Linked DNA regions of Homo sapiens: region 1 is linked to region 2. The links come from fine-mapping of genetic effects on gene expression. A gene starts in region 2. The other region holds a variant in brackets. All regions are shown on one strand. Distances are between the middles of the regions.

The links. PIP is the estimated chance that this variant, and not a neighbour inherited with it, causes the effect. A credible set is the group of variants that fine-mapping cannot tell apart.
Region 1: its variant is the best candidate, but not a certain one, in a credible set for the expression of LEMD3 in whole blood (INTERVAL, PIP 0.77).

The regions. Positions count from the first base shown.
Region 1 is chr12:65,226,561-65,229,476 of GRCh38, reverse strand. The region is part of intron 4 of LEMD3 (LEM domain containing 3); the gene reads right to left. Among named protein-coding and RNA genes, the nearest start is that of MSRB3, 51 kb to the left of the region's middle. The variant A/T (reference allele first, on the strand shown) is at 1,071.
Region 2 is chr12:65,168,257-65,171,172 of GRCh38, reverse strand. LEMD3 (LEM domain containing 3) reads right to left here and starts at 1,590. Exons shown (of 13, transcript NM_014319.5): 1 at 55-1,590. The coding sequence starts at 1,576. LOC124902953 (a long non-coding RNA gene) reads left to right here and starts at 1,757. Exons shown (of 2, transcript XR_007063349.1): 1 at 1,757-1,956. RefSeq lists enhancers at 433-512, 1,423-1,572, 1,255-1,827, 2,013-2,072 and silencers at 506-709, 1,093-1,302.

The DNA of each region.
Region 1 (2,916 bases), 58 kb before region 2:
AGGCATTGCAGAACATAGTATGGTGGATCCTCAAAAAATTAAAAATAGAACCACCATATGATCCAGCAATCTCACTACTGGGTATATATCCAAAGGAAAGAAAATCAGTAAGTGAAAAGAGGTATCTGTACTCTCATTTATTGCCGCATTATTAACAATAATATGGAATCAACCTAAGTGCTCATTAACAGATGAATAAAGAAAATGTGGTATATATACAATGGAATACTATTCAGCCATAATAAAGAATAAAATTATGTGATTCACATCAACACCGATGCACTTGAAGAACATTATGTTAAGTGAAATAAGCCAACCACAGAAAGACAAATACCATATATTCTCACTTGTGGAAGACAAATGAGTTAGAAGTCCAAGTTAAGGACTACTAAGAACTTGGCTTATTTTACCTTTGGGGAAACTAAAAAGTTGATCTCATGGAGGTAGAAGAGAATAGTGGTTACTAGAGGCTAGAAAGTGGCAAAGTGGCAGGTGGAGGGTCTGTAGCCAGAGGTTGGTTAAATGAAATTATAACTAGGTAGGAGGAATAAATTCTAGTGTTCTATAACACTGCAAGGCAACTATAATTAACAATTTATTATATATTTTCAAATAGCTAAAAGAGCAAATTTTGAATGTTCCCAACACAAAGAAATGATAAATGTTTGAGGTGATGGCTCATTTATCCTGACTGTATCATTACACATTGTATACATGTATCAAAATATCACACTATACCCCATAAATATGTACAATTATGTCAATTAAAAATAATAAAAGTGGCCAGGCACGGTGGCTCACGCCTGTAATCCCAGCACCCTGGGAGGCTGAGGCGGGCAGATGACGAGGTCAGGAGATCGAGACCATCCTGGCTAACATGGTGAAACCCTGTCTCTACTAAACATACAAAAAAATTAGCCAGGCGTGGTGGCAGGTGCCTGCAGTCCCAGCTATTTGGGAGGCTGAGGCAGGAGAATGGCATGAACCTGGGAAGGAGAGCTTGCGGTGAGCCGAGATCTCGCCACTGCACTCCAGCCTGGGCAACAGAGCAAGACTCCACCTCAAAAAAA[A/T]AAATAAATAAATAAATAAATAATAACAATAATAATAATAAAACACAAAAAGCTACAGTTCATTAATATCTTTTTTTAAGTAGATATAAGCAGTTTCCAATTTAACTCATGCAAGAGTGCTTCTAGTAACTTTTTTGCTGCTAGTCTTCAGTAGAATTAATCTTATACTCTATTGCTGCCTGGCTTAGACTTTGACTTACCCCAACCCCGCATCTGTGTCCCTTCTTTTTAACTTGTACCATTGCTGACCCACAGCTACAAGAAAATGGTTGGAAGAAGTGAAAGAGAGGTTAATAATTCCACACCAACCCCTGCCTCTTCCTCAGCTCCACCTTAATTACTGGTCAGGTCCTATCTTGTCCCCAGTCCCTATCCCATTTCTTCAGTCCTTCAAACACAGTACAGTCAGTCCTTTTATCCATGGGTTCCACCTCCATGGACTGAAATACTGAATAGAGTCAATATAGTCTATCATGAATCAAAAATATCTGGGAAAAAAACAGATGATTATGTCGGCATTAAATTTGTACAGTCTTTTTTTTTTTCCTTATTATACCCTAAACCAGGAGTGTCCAATCTTTTGGCTTCCCTTGGCCCCACTGGAAGAACTGTCTTGGGCCACACAAAAAATACATTAACAACAGCTGATGAGCCAAAAAAAAAAAAAAAAATCGCAAAAATTCTTATGTTTTAAGAAAGTTTACAAATTTGTGTTGGGCCGCATTCAAAGCCATCCTGGGCTGCAAGTTGGACAAGTTTGCACTAAATGATACAGTATAATAATAACTATTTACATACAATTTACATTGTATTATCAGTAATCTAGAGAAGATTTAAGGTATATAGCAGGATATGCATAGGTTATATGTAAATACTACAGTATTTTATATAAAGAACTTGAGCATCTACAAATTTTTGTGTCCATGGGGGTCCCGGAAGTAATCCCCAGATACCAAGGAAGAATTAATCCTATTTCATATGCTTTAAGAGTCTCAGCATTCTTCTGAAAAGCAATGAAACTTGCTCCAGGAATTTATGACCAATCATAACACAGATCTACGGTATTACCTCTCAGAGATCAAATCTCAGAGGTTTAACTACCTAACAAAAAGAAAACAGGAAAGAAACACTGAATGGGATAAGATAGTCCTACTACTAGAAGTGAAAACCCATTCAATTATTTTATAAGGAATAGTTTGCTTGCTTTGGATTCTCACTATGCCTTTCTTCATGGAATATTTTATTCTATGTCTCCTTTAGCCTCAATCCAATCCCTTTTTTTGCCTGCACCCTGACATTCGTCCATCCCATAACACTGAGCCCTATAATCATAACTCCTCCTTAGTCAAGATCTTTTTGAATTCTGATCCTTTAACTGTCCAGTCTATTAGCTATTACACTATCCATAAATTTTACTGTCATTAATGTTCTCATCTAGGTCAAAATTGAAAATAAAGACAATAAACAACCTTAAACAAAATTTCTGTGGCATGTTATTAGAGATTACTCGCTAGAGTGGCACTGATTTAATTAGAAAACACAGAAATTGAATTTATTGGGAAGCTACTATAATCATCAGGCACTGAGCTAGGCATTTTATATACTCAAGTCTCCCAACAACTTTGACAGGTATTAACGGCAGTCCCACATTCACAGAGAAACATGTTCAGAAAAGTTAGAGACTTTACCAAAATGTAATAGCTTCTACTGGCAGTACCAGAATTTGACTCCAGATATAATCTCCTTATTATACTGTCTTAGGATCTTTTTGGTACCTACATATAAGTCATGCATTAAGTTAAAAACTCAGTCAATATTTCTCTTTGTTGACAAGCATAATCACAGG
Region 2 (2,916 bases):
CGGACCACTAACAACATTCTCTTTGTTACCTTACCCACAGGATTTAATACTTACTGCTGAGTTCTCCATCCTCAGATACTCCTGTCCCTCTCATTCCTAGGTAAGTCAGTCCCAGTATTAGGAAAAATAAGCAGGCAGCAGTTAAGAGAAACATCGACAAGTAGTGGGCACTGAAACTCCCTGTTGGGGACACCTCCTCCCGTTTAAATTGCTGGAGAAGTTCCTCTTCGGGTTCGGAAAGCTTCGGTTTGTTGTATGTGTTTTTCAGGTAGGTATGATTGGAGCCCGTATGATTGGCGTGATTGATCCTGAGTGAACTAGAGGCGGCCACCGCCGCACTGGGAGGGAGACTGTTAGAATAAATCCTGGGGGAGTCCACACTGAAGGCCCCACCGCCAATATGATTATTGGTTTTCAGAAGGGAGCCTGTTGACGAATCCAAGGTTGAGTCCATGTCAGTAAGTGGCGGGGGCAGGAGAGGGGTCAGTTTCTTAGCGTTAACACGGTATCTAGGAACGGGGCTGGAGTCCACTTGATCACACCCTCCTCCCTGCTCCGCGGCCGCCGCCTCTTCGAGGTTTCGGCTCCTGTCTAGACTCCCGGCAGCCGCCGCCCTGTCATTCATCGCGAGTCCTCCCCCTCCCTGAACTGAAGTCTCCAGCCTGCCGCCGGCCGATTTAGCAGTCAGCGGGGGGAGAGGCTTACTATGGGTTCGTCTGGGCCGATGCCGGGAAAGGGAGTCGTCCTTTAATACCTGTCTGCTGGAGGCCACGTCGTCGTCGTCCTCTTCCTCTGAGTCCGAATAGTTTTCCCGGCAGCTGTAGGGGACAAGCCGGCTGCCATTCACGGTCCGGCTCGCCCAGAGCGGCTCCTCGGTCTCCGGGTCCCTCTCCTCACCGTCCTCTCCCTCCCCTTCCTCGTCCTCCACTGCTCCATCTTTCCCCGGCGGGGTCTGCAGCTCGGGGCCCGCCGGCCTCCTGGCCCCCCACCACGAGTGGGGCTTCCTTCGCTCTGCAGAGTTGCTGTTAGTCACCTCGCTGGCGGCCAGGGGCGCCGGCGGCGCTTTGAGCCCGCGGTACTGGAGCGAAGCCCGGTCTTTCCTCCCGCCGCCGCCGGCCTGGTCCCGGGGACTGGCCTCCACGTCCGACTCGTCCGAGCTGAAGCCCAGCAGCACTTTGCTGCCAGCCGCGGGGGCGGCGGAGGCGCCCCCGGGCCCTCCCAGGAGGCTCTCTGGGCCAGAGGCCGAGATTCGGCACAGGCCCCCAGGAGTCCGTAAGTAGGAGAGGTCGCCCGAGACCGGCCGGACCCCCATCCCCGCGGCCGCCGCCGCCGCTGGTCCCGCGGCTGCGACCGTGGCGGCTGCCGTGTTATTGTTATTACTGTTCCGCGTCTTGTTGCCGCGGCCCCCTGACCGGTGCTGTTGCTGCTCTTCCTCTCGAAGCTTCTTCAGCTTCTTGAGGTAGACCGGGCGGGTGCTCTCCGTCACTGGTCCGGGAGACAGGCCGTAACGGCGGAGCTGAGAGAAAAGCTCCTCATCCGAGAGCTGCTGAGGCGCCGAAGCTGCTGCCGCCGCCATTTTCTCTCCAGGGTGTTTTACAAGCTCCGCGCTACCGGAAGTGACGCGCCGCCCTAGACCCTGAACTAGACCGCGCTGCGTCGCCCTCCCAGCGCCGCGGGCATCTCGGCCAATGGGAGGCGCGGGAGGAGCTCACCTGAGCGGGAAAGAGCCACCTGAGCAGCGCGCGGCTCCCACGGCGGAGACTGTTTCTACTCTCTCACCTTGAGGTGTCGGCGCATTCTCCCCCTGCTCTCTATCTCATCTCCAGCTGTTCTCCGCCCTGCCCTTCCAAGTGCCGTTCCCGGGAGCTGTCTCTTACTAAACCACACCTTGACCTCACCTTCCTAGGTTCCTGCCACCGGGCAGTAATAACTGAAATCTACCTTGAAGTTTATGGCGTAAGTTTTCTTTACATCTGGATTCCCAATGCCGAGGGAGCCTAGACCTACTGAAAGAAATTCTGCTGGCCAGACTAGATTGGCAGCTTTCCCGTCTGACTTCAGGTTGTCTATTTTCAGTTCGTCTTTAGCTTGACCTACCAAAAAAAAAAAATTTTTAAGTGACTTTCTCTCGCTGCTCTTTTTGAGAAGCCTCACCTCTCTCATTCTGAGAAGATACGGAGTACACCAATCACAATACAATTTTCTTCTAGCGTAATGGCTGTTCATTCATTAGTTAATTGTAAGATATTATCTTTTTTTCCTTTTTTGAAACCTAATGACTTTACTACGTCAGCACTTGAAAGTGAAAGAGCTTGTCTGCTTCATTCTAAGACTCTCAGAGACATAACACATGATCCTATTTATTTCCTTCTTAGCACCTTTCCAACCAATAGTTATTTATCAGTTATTAATAAATATTTGTTTACTTTCAAAATTATTTATTGTCCTATCCTTTTGGACTATAATAAGCTCCATGTGTGGAGGAACCTTGCTTCTGTTACTCACAATACTAGTAGAAGCTCAATAAATATTTGTTGAATGAATTAAAGAATTGCAAAGAGAGGATAGTATGAGATGAATATTTTGAAATAAGACTAGTGCCAGGTGAGGTGGAGAAACCTTCACACAAAGTCAAAAAAACAAGGACAAGACCTGGAACCCCAACTCTGCCATTTACAGAATAGGAAATGAATCCCAGAGAGGTGAAATGTGCCCCATGTGGTGAAGATCTTGTCCCATTTTCCCATTTCCCCAAACCTTGGCAGACAGACAATTCTTTAGTACTTCAATCCTAGTAGCTACAAAATACTACAATAATTTTTTGTTGTTGAATGAGTTATTTTACCTATTACATTACCCTATACACCTGTACAGAAAAACGTTAGTCAAAAGCATAAATACGGCCGGGCGCGGTGG